Linked DNA regions of Homo sapiens: region 2 is linked to region 1. The links come from fine-mapping of genetic effects on plasma protein levels. A gene starts in region 1. The other region holds a variant in brackets. All regions are shown on one strand. Distances are from middle to middle.

What was found. A credible set is the group of variants that fine-mapping cannot tell apart. PIP is the posterior inclusion probability: the model's chance that the variant is causal. Protein levels are from antibody-based Olink assays in UK Biobank. Linkage for the fine-mapping came from a reference panel and not from the study's own genotypes, which makes the PIPs less certain.
Region 2: its variant is the best candidate, but not a certain one, in a credible set for the plasma level of the FCRL5 protein (UK Biobank, PIP 0.52).

The regions. Positions count from the first base shown.
Region 1 is chr1:157,549,190-157,557,725 of GRCh38, reverse strand. It overlaps FCRL5 (Fc receptor like 5), which reads left to right and starts at 5,211. Exons shown (of 17, transcript NM_031281.3): 1 at 5,211-5,394; 2 at 8,146-8,166. The coding sequence starts at 5,364.
Region 2 is chr1:157,536,099-157,544,098 of GRCh38, reverse strand. FCRL5 (Fc receptor like 5) reads left to right here. Exons shown (of 17, transcript NM_031281.3): 6 at 962-1,240; 7 at 4,735-5,013. Among named protein-coding and RNA genes, the nearest start is that of FCRL5, 12 kb to the left of the region's middle. The variant C/T (reference allele first, on the strand shown) is at 3,498.

The DNA.
Region 1 (8,536 bases):
GCTTTCAGGCAAGAAACAGAGATAAAGAGAGATATTTAATAATGGCGAGTGTGTCAAATTATCAGGAAGAGGTAACAATTCTAAATGTGTAAGCGCTTCATAAAATAACTTCAAAATATAAAACAAAAAAAGACAGAAATAAAAAGGAAGTTGACAAATTCACCATGATAATGGAAAACCCTAACATAATTCTCTTGGTAACTTATAGAATATTAGAAAAAATAGTAAGACCATAGGATATTTGAATAACACAATATAGAATATAAAATTATGTAATTCACAGAAATGAAATGCTGCACCAATATTTGCAAATATACATTGTTTTAAAGAAAACATGGAAAATTTACAAAACGTGACTATGTACTAGCCCATAAAGCAAATTTCAACATATTTCAAAAGACTGAAATCACAAAATATGTTCTCAGACCACAGTGGAATTAAACTAGAGATTAATATCAACAAAAATGAAAATCTCTATTAGGAAAAGAAACAATACACTTCAAAACAACCCATTGGCCAGAAGGAACACCCTAATGGAAATTAATAATATTCTTAACAAAATGATCATAGAGATATGACATATCAAAACTTACACATTGCAGTCACACTTAGACAAAACTGTATAGCATATTGGAAAATAAAAGATTAAAAAATCAAAGACCTAAGTATCCCTGTAAGAAGTTTTTAAAAAGCAAGTTAACTTTTAAAAGGTAAAATGAAGTAAATATTAAAGAAAAGAGGAGAAATTAATGAAATAGAAAATGAACATACAATACAGAAAAATCAACAAAGCCAAAAGGTTCTTTGAAAAGGCTAATTCAATTGATGATTCCCTCTAGAGACTGATCAAGAATAAAAGAATGACTAAGAGAAGACAGTTATCAATATTATGAGTGAAAAAATAAAAAACATTACTACAGATCTCAAATATATTAAAAAATAAATGAGGACATTGTAAATAATGTTGTGCCAATAGACTTGGAAATATTGATAAGCAAATTCCTAAAAATATACAACATATCAAAACTGGCACAAGAAGAAATAAAGTATCTGAATAATCTCATATCAGTTTTAAAAATCAAATCTGTAATTTGCCCTCCTCCAGAGAAAGTTCCAAGCCTAAGTACTTTTTTTTAATTATTATTATACTTTAAGTTTTAGGGTACATGTGCACATTGTGCGGGTTAGTTACATATGTATACATGTGCCATGCTGGTGCTCTGCACCCACTAACTCGTCATCTAGCATTAGGTATATCTCCCAATGCTATCCCTCCCCCCTCCCCCCACCCCACAACAGTCCCCAGAGTGTGATGTTCCCCTTCCTGTGTCCATGTGTTCTCATTGTTCAATTCCCACCTATGAGTGAGAATATGTGGTGTTTGGTTTTTTGTTCTTGCCATAGTTTACTGAGAATGATGATTTCCAATTTCATCCGTGTCCCTACAAAGGACATGAACTCATTTTTTATGGCTGCATAGTATTCCATGGTGTACACGTGCCACATTTTCTTAATCCAGTCTATCATTGTTGGACATTTGGGTTGGTTCCAAGTCTTTGCTATTGTGAATAATGCCGCAGTAAACATACGTGTGCATGTGCCTTTATAGCAGCATGATTTATAGTCCTTTGGGTATATACCCAGTAATGGGATGGCTGGGTCAAATGGTATTTCTAGTTCCAGATTCCTGAGGAATCGCCACACTGACTTCCACAATGGTTGAACTAGTTTACACTCCCACCAACAGTGTAAAAGTGTTCCTATTTCTCCACATCCTCTCCAGCACGTGTTGTTTCCTGACTTTTTAATGATTGCCATTCTAACTGGTGTGAGATGATATCTCATTGTGGTTTTGATTTGCATTTCTCTGATGGCCAGTGATGGTGAGCATTTTTTCATAAGCCTAAGTAAGTACCTTTACCAGTAAAATCTTCCAAACATTTAAGGAAGAAATAACATCAGTCGTACACAAACTCTTCACGAAAATAGAAAAAGAAGGAGCTTGCTTATGAGACCAATATAATTTTGTTACTAAAATTCATCAAGAAAGAAAATTGGTCCATCTTCCTCATGAACACAAATGCTAAAAAGCACAGCAAATTTATAAGTCAAATTCAAGAATATATAAAAAAGATAACACATCATGGCCAAGTTGGAATGCACAGTTGATTTTACATTTATAATCATCCATGTAATTCATCATATTAACAATAAAAGTAAATAATCATATGATCATATTAATAGAGGCAATAAAGGTATTTACTGAAACAGCATCCATTATTTAGGAAAAAAGGAAAATTTCTTAGCAAATTAGAAATATAAGGAAAGGTATTTAATCTGATACATAGTATTCACCAAAAAAAATTACAGAAAATATTATATTTAATATTGAAATATTAAGAGCTTTTTCTGTGAGACTAAGACAGGACACCTGATATTACCACTTCTCTTTAGTATCATGTTTGAGTTCCTAGTCAGTGCAATAAGTGAGAGAAAAGGAAGTTTAAGTATTAAAAATAATGAATAAAACTATCATTATATGATTGTGTTTGCATGAAATCTAAAATAACCTAAAGATAAACTATTAAAATTAATAAGTAAATTCCGCAATTTTAGTAGATATTAAAAGGTCAGTAAGGCCGGGCATGGTGGCTCACGCTTGTAATCCTAGCACTTTTGGAGGCCAAGGCGGGCAGATAACTTGAGGTCAGGAGTTTGAGACCAGCCTGGCCAACATGGTGAAACCTCATCTCTACTAAAAATACAAAAATTAGCTGGGCATGGTGGCAGACACCTATAATCCCAGCTACTTGGGACGCTAAGGCAGGAGAATCGCTTGAACCTGGGAGGTGGAGGTTGCAATGAGCCAAGATCGCACCAGTGCACTCCAGCCTGGGGGACAAGAGCAAAACTCTGTCTCAAAAAAATAAAAATAATGGTCAGTAAAACAAAAAAGTATTATATTTCTATATACCAATATACATTTAGAAAAAAATCTAATGATGTCACTTACAATATCATAAAAAACATATCAATAACCTAAGGATAAACCTACCAAAAGATATACTTTCCAGAGGCAAAGCTATAGAAAATTACTGAAAGAATGTCAAGTTAACCTAAATAAATGAGGGGATATTGTATGTTTATGGATTGGGAGACTAAATCTTTTCTAATTTATACAAATTAACTTATAAATCCAATGCAATCCCAGTTATTAAAAATCTACTAGGCTTTTGGGGAGAGAGGGGACAGGAATTGACAAGGTGATTTTTAAATGTATAGAAAAATTCAAAAAGCCAAAAATAGCCATAACAATTTTGAAGAAGAACAGCATTTTATGACTTAAACTATCAGTTAATAAGAGTTATTATAAAGCCACAATAATTAGAAGAGTGTGGTATTGGCATGAGGATAGACAAAATAGACTAATGGACAAGAAAGGAGTTTCCAAAAATAGACCTACATGGCTTTTTGTTTTATAACAAAGGTGAAATTGCACTGTACTGTGGAAAAAATCAACTTTCAATAAATAGGGCAGGATAAATTATCTGTATTTAAGTTAAAAGTGAATATAAACACTCAAACTGTACACAAAAATCAATTGCAATGCTCTTATAAATATAAAATAAATGGTAAAAAATAAAGTTTCTAGAAGATAACCTGGGAGAGTATCTTTATGATCTTGGAGTAGACTAACTTTCTTAGAAGGGATGCAAAAATCTCTAACCACAAAGGAGAAGACTGATAAACTGGACTATGTCAAAGTTAGAATGGTTGTTCATCAAAAGGCACTATCAATGAGCAAAGAAGCAAGCCACAGATTGAAGGAAGACATTTGCAATACATATATCCAACAAAAGGTTTATATTCAGGGTTTAAAATAACTACAAAACAGGAAAAGAAAGACTGAAAGTTAAGAGAAAAATGAGGAAATATTTGAACAGAGATTGCACATAAAAAGGATATCTACATCACCAATTAGACTATGAAAAAATGCTCATTCTCAAATTCACCAGAGACATACAAATTAAAACCACATTGAGATAATTCTAGCAGAACGGCCAGATTTTACTAGATGACAATACCAATATCAGCAAGAATTTTAGAACAATGATAACTCTCATACATTGGTTGGTGGGTGTGGTGGGAATTGGCACAACCACTTTGGAAAATAATTTGGTAATACTTCCTAAACTGAATATATGCATACCTTATGAGCCAGGACTTCCACTCCCAGATATATACCCAACAGAATTATGTGCGCATATGCCCCAATAAATGTATACAAGAATGTTCATAGCAGCACTATTTGTTTTAGCACCAAAAGTAGGTAAAGATTCTGTGTTCCCTTTGAAGTTCTCCTCTTAATCTCTATTCACCCCTGTAACCCCTGTATGGTTTTCTTGCCTCAGGGTGCAGTGGGTCAGATGTGACATAATATACCTAAGGTGATGTGCATTTGTAGATATAAAATTAAATGCCCCCTTAGGAAGACCAAGGTATGGGCCCAGAGAGAAAGGGTGAGAAAATATTTGAAAGAAAGAAACTGGCACTCCTCGTGGCAGCTAATGTCTTAGGAACCTCTGTTGACCAGTATACCAGGATGGAAACTTGACTTTTAGAAAATCATAAGAGCTATACATTCACCTGGTAATTTTTTAAAAAATCAAACGGTACAGAAATACATAAAATAAATTGTGTTCTTCCCACCTATTGCTCCTCAAACATAATCAATATTTTTGTGTGTACTTTCCAGGAAAAGAAGAAAGTATACTTAAAAGAGTTGATGTACACATATATCCTATTTTTTATATTTACCCAATGGGATAATACTACAAAACCAATCTATATCTCACTTTTATTCTCTTCACATCAAACAAGGTGGTCTTCCCTTCTTGGCATGTTCAGATTTACCTTATTCTTTAATGATTGCTTGTCACCATACGGATGAATCAGAATATTCTTAAACAGTCCCCATATCATGGTTTTTTGTTTTGTTTCCAGTGTTTAGGCAATAATGAATGCTACAATAAACGTTCTTATAGTACTCTCTTCAGATACTTCCTTCAGGGTAATTTCCCAATAGCAAAAATGTAGGGTCAAGGGTATTTGATTTTTTAAAACCTTAACTTTTTTTTTTCTTTGATCATCGGGTAGGAAACTGTGATTAGCAGCTGAAGACGGGTACTCCCACTTCCTTTTTTCAATTCACTAATGCATTCTGCTCTTTTTGAGAGCACAGCTTCTCAGATGTGCTCCTTGGAGCTGGTGTGCAGTGTCCTGACTGTAAGATCAAGTCCAAACCTGTTTTGGAATTGAGGAAACTTCTCTTTTGATCTCAGCCCTTGGTGGTCCAGGTCTTCATGCTGCTGTGGGTGATATTACTGGTCCTGGGTGAGTAAAAGGGCTCACCATGGGCCCTGGGTGGGATCGGGACAGCTTCTCTCTCCACCGCAGGCCTGGTCCTTTCTTGGGGCTCAGCCCCTGCTGAGAGACTCTCTCCTACATTAGGAGACTGTATTTTTGAACTTTACTCTGTAGCTCAGGGCTTTCTCTTGAGGCTGAAGAAAATGGCCACAGCTGGAAGGAATTTTCAATCTTACAGAGTAGGAAACCACAATAACCACAACAATTAAAATTTCATTTATTTTTTTCTTTAAAAAGTACTTCTTAAAGTCCAGAGAATGTTTCATGTTTGTTTGTTCATATTGTCTTACTCATAGAAGAGCCCACTCTCCTCTCTGCAGAGGAGATGTATTTATTCCTTGTATGACAAGGCCAGATCCTGGTCCCCAGCATAAGAGGCAAGGTTTCTAACGGGAAAGACAGGTCTTTCTCTTGTACATAATTGCAAACCACTGCAGCAATTGGCTGATTAAGAACATGGGGTGGAGGAGGTCGCAGAGGCGTAGGTGGACAAAGCAAGGATAAATCTAAAGCATATGACTTTCTCTTTGTCCCTGTGGGTGTACGTAAGTCTCTATCAACTCATATGTGCGAACTGGTTGATTTTTACTAAAGGTTAAATATTATAATTAAATATGTTTATTTATTTGTTCAGCAAATGTGTTTAGTAATATCTATGCACAGGTGCTGAGCAATTAGAGTCCATAGGAGACACTACGTCTATGTTCTGGAAAGTCATGACATAGAAGGGCTCCCAGCAAGGCCAATGTACTTTCAAGCAGCTATGCAACAAGCTCCCAGTTAAATAATTGTCCAGGCAAAGTTACCAATGAATGCTGTAGGCAGATAATAAACTGTATTCAAAATAGCTAGTAAAGACTTCATGAAACTTAGAGGTGAGTAGGAGCTAGAGGAGCAGAAATGGAGCAGGCGTGATATAAGAAAAGAGGACCTCACAGTTGGAAGGTGCATGGACTATAATTCCTGAAGTAGGAATACATCTCAGTGTGGCCCCACACAATGTGGGTAATGGCCAGGTCCTGAGCATGAGAGGGCAAAGTTTATAACATGGGCTCTGGGGTCAAACAGGATCTAGGTTCAAACTTCATCTTGCCACCTACTGGCTACCAGATTCCTGGTCTACAAAATGCAGTTAATCCTAGTGCTTACCTCACAGGATTATTGACATGGTTATATGAAATAACCTACGTAAATGCAGACCATATAGAAACCACTCACAAAAATATTAGCTTCATTTAAAACAATGCAAAGATGAAGGAAGCCAAAATATTCAGGTGAATGGTGAATAATTTGTTGTTCTCAGTAAAACACTTAAGTTTGGATAAGTCTCCAATAGCCTCATGTGGACAGGGATGATTTGTCTCTCACACACTCCTGGATTTCTATTGCCTTGCTCTGGAGTATGATTGGCATTCCAAAAATCTGTTGAATAAATAAATCAACCCATATGCAGAATACCTACTCAATTGATAAACCTGCCAGTTTTGTGTCCTCTCTCTCTTCATTACCCATTTCTCAAATCTCTATCCTTCTATTCCTATATTATTAACCTAGTTCTTTAATTAATTCATTATACAACACAAATATATTTAGTGAACATTAAAGGAATATCTTTTATATGCCATTCACCGTTATAGGTCCTGGAGGATATATGGTGAACATAAGGAAAGTCCTAGGTCTCATAGAGCTTGCATTATAGAGAAGGGAAAATAAACAAGCAGATAATGAAGATAATTTGGATAAATACTCTGACAAAAATTACACATTACCATCTCTTGGGCTGAGCATCAGGTCTAAATAATCTGAGCATCAGTTGATTGTTTAAAAATTAGGCATGATGATAATGAGCCCTTGGATTCAATGATCTCATGAAAAGAGTATAGCCTGGAGTCTGGTGCCCAAGGGAGGCTTAATTCATGTCCATTTCCTTGCCCTGCCTTCTAATCAGTCTCCCTGCTTCATATTGTCCCATTAAATTCTGTCCACTGACAGAGTGCTCCATCAAAGTCTGAAATTCTAACCTTGTCAATCTCCTCCTTGAAACCATTCCATGACTCCTTATCACTTTTATAATAAAATTAGAACCACTTACTCAGGCCCTGCATGCTTCTCTGGTCTTATTTCCCCCAACACTCCCAGTTCCTGAGCACCAATGTCATTTCTCCACTTCTGTGCCCTTTCTACCTTGAAAGGTAGAAATCGCCTCTTACCACACACAAATGCTAACATCCACCTGCAGACTCATGTTCTCACTCACAGTTTTGTGAAGTATCATCTCCTTCAGGTACCTTCAAGGATCCACCCATCCTGTTCAACACATGTACACACAAACACACACTCTACACACACACATATATCCTACACACTGGGCTAGTGGCCCTTCTGCCCCCAACATACCCCATGTGTATTTCTGTTATTGCACTTACACCCTGTGTTATATTATTTTAAATCGTGTTTCTGTTTTTCCACTAGTCAACTTCTTGATGGCAGATACCATTTTTAAAATTCATTGTAGAAGTCCAAATACCATGCCATATATATATGTATATATATGTATATTTATGTGTATATATATACATTTGATGAATAATTATTAGAGTTTTTAAATGAATTTTTTAAAGGGACAAGTAATACATGCATGGGTAAAAAAGGGAATTATCTTCTTAAAACAAAATAATCATGGTTCTGTGCTCATCTCTGGCTCTTATTTTTTTGCAGCTCCTGTCAGTGGACAGTTTGGTGAGTTCTCCTGTCTTTGGCTCTTCAGCGTCTCTGGTTAAGAGTGTCTCTTCCTAATAAATAGAAAACATTTGTGATGGCTGCCTGAGATCTCCAATATCTCCTGTTTTCTTTCCTTTTTTTTATTATACTTTAAGTTTTAGGGTACATGTGCACAACGTGCAGGTTTGTTATATATGTATACATGTGCCATGTTGGTGCGCTGCACCCACTAACTCGTCATTTAACATTAGGTATATCTCCTAATGCTATCCCTCCCCCCTCCCCCCACCCCACAACAGGCCCTGGAGTGTGATGTTCCCCTTCCTGTGTCCAAGTGTTCTCATTGTTCAATTCCCACCTATGAGTGAGAACATGCGGTGTTTGGTTT
Region 2 (8,000 bases), 13 kb after region 1:
AGCTTAGACCCAGGAAAATCCAAGAAAAGAAAGGTCTAATTTTTTTTCTTTCAATGCCATTAAATACAATTCTTTCTTTTCTCTCGCAGGGTTCTCTTCCCTGACATCATTTTTTTTTCTTCTAGGCCCATAGGGATAAGCCATGGGCTGTGGCATAGCTCTCTGACTCTGGTGTACAGAGGTATCTGTTGTCCCAATTAACATTACTTATTGACAATAACCAAAGTGAAAATTTCTGTAGGATACAAAGACAGGTTGCAACATTATAGTTACTCCAAATATGTGACTCTGGAGGTTTACCATTCCCTAGTTATGAGTACAAATATGCACCCCAGATTACATCACCTCCCTTACTAGTATACAGCACCATCCTTCCTTCAAAGCTATTATGGTAGTTACAGTGATGAGGGAAAAACAGCTTCTGTAGAGCCCTGTGTCATCCCTCCACTCATGGCAAACTCCGGGCTCACTTATAAGGAGGCAATGTGATCATCACCAGACTAGGAGTCAGGACACCAACTCTGGCCCTGGCTGGCCCTGAAAACAGCCTACACAGGCAGGTCTCCTAGTCTCTCCTTGACTCAGTTTTCTCACCTGTAAATAAAGAAGGTCAGTCTGGGCCAAGGGAGAGAGTAGGAGCAGAAGAAAAAGCTCTAGAAGACTATGCTAATCTTTAAGGAAAAACTAGCAATGGCAAATAAATCCCTGAGGCCAATGCAAGTGAAGGAGAAATAAACAGGGATAGGAAAGAAGACTCAGAATAATTGGGCACTTCAGGTGCAACATTCCATAGTCATAGGGCAGAAGGAAGGAGCAAGAAGCAGGTGCAGGTAAGGGTGTGTGGTTCTGATGGCAGCAAGTTAAGGGTGGAGACTGGAGACTGGGCATTTGCACTGGCCATGCCTTGTAATCTACAGTAAGAGGCAAAAGCAATTCTTGACTAATTTTTTCTCTTGCTCAGTCCCTGCATCTCATCCTGTCCTCACTCTCAGCCCTGAAAAGGCTCTGAATTTTGAGGGAACCAAGGTGACACTTCACTGTGAAACCCAGGAAGATTCTCTGCGCACTTTGTACAGGTTTTATCATGAGGGTGTCCCCCTGAGGCACAAGTCAGTCCGCTGTGAAAGGGGAGCATCCATCAGCTTCTCACTGACTACAGAGAATTCAGGGAACTACTACTGCACAGCTGACAATGGCCTTGGCGCCAAGCCCAGTAAGGCTGTGAGCCTCTCAGTCACTGGTAAGCCCTGCATTCCTGCCAATCACCCACCCCTGGCCAAGAGTCCTGCCTCACCCTGCCCTTCGGAAGTCAGCATATACCTTCCAGTATCCTCAGTTTCTTTCTTGGGAAAACCTAATGTCCTCCTCCACTCTCCGGCTCACTGAACCAGCTGTCTGCCTCTTGAGTCTCGTTGCATTGCAGTCTAGGTGCCCTTATACCCCTGCCTGATGGTGCAGTGGCTTTCTATCCCCTGGTTCCCAATTTCTGAGAAGCCAAGTGCTTTTCTTGTGCTTTCCACTTGTCCTGTGGCTCCCCAGATGACTGATTTTCATTCACTATATTATTCTCAGTAGACACAGACTCAATTTCCAGGAGCACAGAGGTATCTCCTGTTCTGTTAATATCAGACATTAATCAATAAACCAAAGGCAAAGACATGTAAGACACAAAGACAAGTCGCTGGATCATAGTTAACCCAGCATGTCCTTCTTGCTCAAGCCTTTTTTAGAGTTGATGGGCAGTAGGTAAGAAAGGCACGGGCAATGGTGGGCTGGGGGCAGGCCAGGAGATAGCTTCACCTCTACTTGCTTGGCTTAATGCCCTCAGAGCTATTCAGGTAGCTGCCAAATAGTTATGACATCAAAAAGGTTTCCTTTGAGCTTTGGATCTCAGTTTCGAACCATCCATGCATGGCTGAATGCCAGGTCCAATGTTGAAGGAGACAGTGTGATTTGGGTCTATACTGGTGACAGAGAGTCCAGTCTTGGTTGGTCCTGGAAGCGGCATCAGTTTCCTTTCCTGTAAAACAATAATACCAGCTTGGAAGACAAGCAAGAATCCAGTCCCTCCCACATGGATGTGTGAGATTATAAAGGAGAGGACCAGGGAACCCAGCGGGAGACATCAAATGACGTAGAAAGAGAACAGTGTCCCTGACATTCAGTGGCCCAAAGAAAGTGGAGACAGTGACATCATGATCAAACATGCTCAGAGATGTTTAAAGTCCTATTCAATGACTCACTTCTTCACCTAATAAATGCTGATTGCATATATTCCATGGACCAGACTGTACTGACATCTAAAGATGCATCTACGACTACACTAACCTGGCCTTCCCCACACAGTTCGTAGGGGCTAATAGCAAATGCAGTCAAGTAAGAGATTAAACATCAACCTGAGGATAGAAGCACCTGGTGGCTGCAGGAGCAGATGGAAAGGCATGCCAATCTGAGTTGGGAAGTGAGAAAAAATTTCTTGGAAGAACTCATGTGTGAGTTGAGACCTGAGGATGAGTGGGAACATTTCAGGAGAAGAGGATTGTGGTGAGGGAGGGAAGGCATGTTCCAGGAACTGGAGGGGCAGTCGGTTCTTGACGACTGCAGCACAGACTGAACAGTGGAGAAAGGTAGGATAAGGTTGGAGAGGAAGGTATGTTTAGACCATATTTAGAAGCAGAGTAAGGGCTTGGGCCATATTTTGCAGGGCAATCTGGGCTCCATGAATGCTTTAAATCTTGGGGAAAACCACTCCAGCAGCACAGTGAGAAATGAGTCATAGAGCAGCCAGTTTGGGGGGCAGCCAGGAGTAAAAGAGAGGGTTCATCAAGAGAGCGTCCAGTTGGAGCAAACCCCAGGCCAGTCCCAGTAGAGGAGTTGGGACTTGAGAAGGAAGGACTCCGGTTGAAGCAAGAGGCACTGTGAGAGTGTGCCCCACTGTCACCAAGGGCAGAATGTGTTCTAAGCAGAAGAGAGGGAGCTGGTTTGGATAAGGCAAAGCTAAGAGATGATGACAGATAAAAACTGAGTCACATCCAGTGAATTTAGCCACAAAGTACTCTTTGGCAGAAGACAGACTAGAATCAGAATACCTGGGTTTGACTGCTGCCTCTTCACTTACTAGCTGTGTGACTCACCCACTCGGGGCCTCAGCATGTTCATCTGTGAAAGAGGGGCAACAATAATACCCACCTCAATGAATTGCTTAGATGATTAAATTAGAGTCTCTCTATATATCGATATTTACAAATTACATCCAACAAATATACAAACACCAGAACTTACTTAAAGACACTATAGTGTCATTATAACAAACATCTATTTTATTATTTTTATCTTTATCATCATAATTATATTCAGAAACATGAAAATCCACTTTAGTAGATTGTTGGGGATTAAAACCAAGTTGTAATGGACAAAACATGCATATGAGATATGAGATAAAGAAGTAGAGATGTTAAAGGTAGGTCACTTCTTCCAGAAGACTGACTACAGAAAGG[C/T]GGAGAAACCGACTGTGAGGAACTGCAAATGCAAATAGGGTTGTTTTTCTATTGTCTGATGGTTTTTTTTTTTTTTAAACATGGAGAGGGTTAAACACATGCAAATGGTGTTTGCAAGAAGCCAGTAGAGGTAAAAACCTTTTATCTAGGACAGAGGCAGGTGAGCACAGGATGAAAAGACAGAAGAAAATCCCCCCAGGCAGGCCAAGGAGGGCTCCTCCATAGCCTCAGGGCCCAGGTCAGAGTGAGGAGCTGATGCAGGTAAGGGTGTGGTTCTGCTGGTGGAAAGACAAGGGAATTCTTTGAGAGCAACATCTCTGCACAACAGAGGCAGGTCCTACAACAAGGGGAGCTGGGAGAGGAGAAAAGACAAGAGGTCTGGTGGAAAAGGAAAAGACAGGGAATGACTAGGATGGAGGACAGGAGAGCTGGTGAGAGTAGCCTGGGAAGTGGCTGGGTCACCCTGCAGGTGGGTAGAGCCTGTGGACTGGAGACTGAACAACTGCACTGGTGAAACATTGAATCTGTGAACCAAAAACTATCTGAGACAGGTCTCAATCAATTTGGATAGTATATTTTGCCATGGCTAAAGACATGTGCCCCAGATTCAGCTCCCTGCCTTCTCCAAAGATGATTTTGAGGGTTTCAATATTTAAAGGTGAAAGGGAAGATATGGAGAAAAAGGAAGAAATTTTTTTAAAAGTATGTGTAAATAACAGACAAACAGTTGCATTCTTTTGAGTCTTTGATCAACCTTTAGCAGAATACACAATTTACATGTGAGAGAGGGGCAGAGGAATAGTCACTTCTGTCTTCCTTTAGCCCAGTGAGTCTGCATTTTTAAGTCAGGGAAATAATCAGATATGCATTTGTCTCCTGTAAGCAGCAATGACTTAAAGTTCTGTCTTTTGTCCTGCACTTGTGAAAATCAGCTATCAATTTACACTGTTAGGGTAAAACAGAACCATTTAAAACAGAACCATTTTAGGGTAAAGATCTTGGGGCCCACAAATAATATTTCAGTGGACAAATTTTGAGGGAGGTATGTAGCTTTTAGAAAAGTCTTTGAAGTTATCTTATTAAGGAATAAAATAAAAAGCAGGTTTGCCTGAAATAGTTCCCAGCTTGACTTTTCCCTTTGGCTTAGTGATTTGGGGTTCCCAAGATTTATTTTCCTTTTATGAAAACTACAGCAGGAGGCAGAAACAAATCTTGACTAATTTTTTCTCTCTCTCAGTTCCCGTGTCTCATCCTGTCCTCAACCTCAGCTCTCCTGAGGACCTGATTTTTGAGGGAGCCAAGGTGACACTTCACTGTGAAGCCCAGAGAGGTTCACTCCCCATCCTGTACCAGTTTCATCATGAGGGTGCTGCCCTGGAGCGTAGGTCGGCCAACTCTGCAGGAGGAGTGGCCATCAGCTTCTCTCTGACTGCAGAGCATTCAGGGAACTACTACTGCACAGCTGACAATGGCTTTGGCCCCCAGCGCAGTAAGGCGGTGAGCCTCTCCGTCACTGGTAAGCCCTGGGTTCCTGCCAATCACCCACCCCTGGCCAAGAGTCCTCTCTTACCCAACCCTTCAGAAGTCAGCGTGTACCTTCTAGTATCCTCTGTTTCTTTCTTGAAACAACCTAATATCCTCCTCCACTCTCTAGCTCACTGAACCAGCTGTCTGCCCCTTGAGCCTCATCCCATTGCAGTCTGGGTGCCTTCCCACCCCTGCCTAATGATGTAGCAGCTTTCTTTTCCCTGCTCCTCAAATTCTGAGCAGCCAATTGCTTTTCTTGTGCTCTCCACTTGTCCTGTAGATCTGCCAGATGCCTGATTTTTGTTTACTAAATTATTCTTAGTAGATATAGACTCAGACTCAGTTCTCAGGAGCACAGAAATGTCCCCTGTCCAGTTAACATCAGACATCAATGAATAACCAGATGCAAAGTCATGTAAGACACAAAGACAAGTCGCTGGATCACAGTTAACCCAACATGTCTCCCTTGCTCAAGCCTTTTTTAGGGTTGATTGGGCAGTAGGTAAGAAAGGCACAGACAGCAGTGGGCTGAGGGCAGGTCAGGAGACAGCTTAACCTCTACTTGCTTGGCTTAATGCCCTCACGGCTACTCAGGTAACTGTCAAATAGTTATGACATCAAAAAGGTTTCCTTTGAGCTTTGGATCTCAGTTTTGAACCATCCATGTGTGGCTAAATGGCCAGGTTCAATGTTGAAGGAGACAGTGTGATTTGGGCCTATACTGGAGACAGAGAGTCCAGTCTTGGTTGGTCCCGGAAGCGGCCTCAGTTTCCTTTCCTGTAAAACAATAATACCACCTTGGAAGACAAGCAAGAATCCAGTCCCTCCCACATGGATGTGTGTGATTATAAAGGAGAGGGCCAGGGAACCCAGGGGGAGTCATCAAATGATGTAGAAAAAGAACAGTACTCCTAACATTCAGAGGCCCAAGGAAAGTGGAGACAGGGACATCATGATCAAACACACTCAGAGATGTTTAAAGTCCTATTAAATGACCCACTTCTTCACCTACTAAATGCTGATTCTATATATACACCTAGATGTAGTGACATCTAAGGATGCATCTAAGACTACACTAACCTGGCCCTGCCCACACAGTTCACAGGGGCTAATAGCAAATGCAGTCAAGTAATAGAGAAAACATCAACCTAAGTTTAGAAGTACCTGGTGGCTGCAGGAGCAGATGAAAGGCATGCCAATCTGAGTTGGAAAGTGAGAAAACAATTCTTGGAATTTGAGATGATATCGGGGGAAATTCACCCCCAATATTTTACATAGGTTCTTTTCTATTTTCCCTAAGTGTCAGCTGGTCTCAGAAATAAAGGGACAGAGTACAAAAGAGAACAATTTTAAAGCTGGGTGTCCGGGGGCGACATCACATGTCGGCAGGTTCCATGATGCCCCTTAAGCCATAAAACCAGCAAGTTTTTATTAGTGATTTTCAAAAGTGGAGGGAGTGTACTAATAGGGTGTGGCTCACAGAGATCACATGCTTCACAAAGTAATAAAATATCACAAGGCAAATGGAGGCAGGGTGAGCTCACAGGACCACAGGACCGGGGCGAAATTAAAATTGCTAATGAAGCTTCGGGCACGCATTGTCATTGATAACATCTTATCAGGAGACAGGGTTTTGAGAGCAGACAACCAGTCTGACCAAAATTTATTAGGCAGGAATTTCCTCGTCCTAATAAGCCTGGGAGCACTACAGGAGACCAGAGCTTATTTCATCCCTCAGCAACGATCATAAAAGACAGCCATCCCCAAAGCGGCCATTTCAGAGGCCTCCCCTTAGGGACATATTCTCTTTCTCAGGGATGTTCCTTGCTGAGAAAAAGAATTCAGTGATATCTCTCCTATTTGATTTAGAAAGAAGAAAAATATGACTCTGTTCCACCCAGCTCACAGGCAGCCAGAGTTTAAGGTTATCTCCCTTGTTCCCTGAACATTGCTGTTATCCTGTTCTTTTTTCAAGGTGCCCAGATTTCATATTGTTTAAACAATTTGTGCAGTTAACACAATTATCACAGGGTCCTGAGGTGACATTCATCCTCAGTTTACAAAAATGATGGGATTAAGAGATTAAAGTAAAGACAGGCATAGGAAATCACAAGGGTATTGACTGTGGAAGTGATAAGTGTCCATGAAATCTTCACAATTTATGTTCAGAGATTGCAGTAAAGACAGGCATAAGAAATTATAAAAGTATTAATTTGGGGAACTAATAAATGTCCATGAAATCTTCAAAATTTATGTTCTTCTGCCATGGCTTCAGTTGGTCCCTCCATTCGGGGTCCCTGACTTCCCGCAACAAGATGAGACCTGATGGAGAAGAGGATTGTGGTGAGGGAGGGAGGACACTTTCAAGGAACTGGAGAGTGGTCAGTTCTTGATGACTGAACCATAGACAGAACAGTGGAGAACCACAAGATAAGGTTGGGGAAGACAACATCATTAGAACCTACTTAGAAGCAGAGTAAGGGCTTGGGCCATATTCTGCAGGGCAATCTGGGCTCCATGAAGGTTTTAAATGTTGGGGAAAACCACTCCAGCAGTACAGTGGGGATCAGGTCATAGAGCAACCTGTTTGAGGAGCAGCCAGGCGTGAAGGAGGGAGCCCAACAAGGGAGTGTCCAGTTGGACAGAACCCCCAGTCTAGTCCCAGTAGAGGAAATGGGACATGAGAAGGAAGGACTCTGGCCAAGGGAAAAGGCACTCACTGTGAGAGTGTGCCCCACTGTCACCAAGGGTAGAACATGTTCTAAGCAGATGATAGTGAGCCAGTTTGGATAAGGCAAAGCTAAGAGATGATGAAAGATAAAAACTGAGTCATGGCCAGGAGAGGTGGCTCATGCCTGTAATTCCAGCACTTTGGGAGGCTGAGGCAGGTGGATCACCTGAGGTCAGGAGTTTGAGACCAGCCTGGCCAACATAGTGAAATCCTGTGTCTACTAAAAATACAAAAATTAGCCAGGT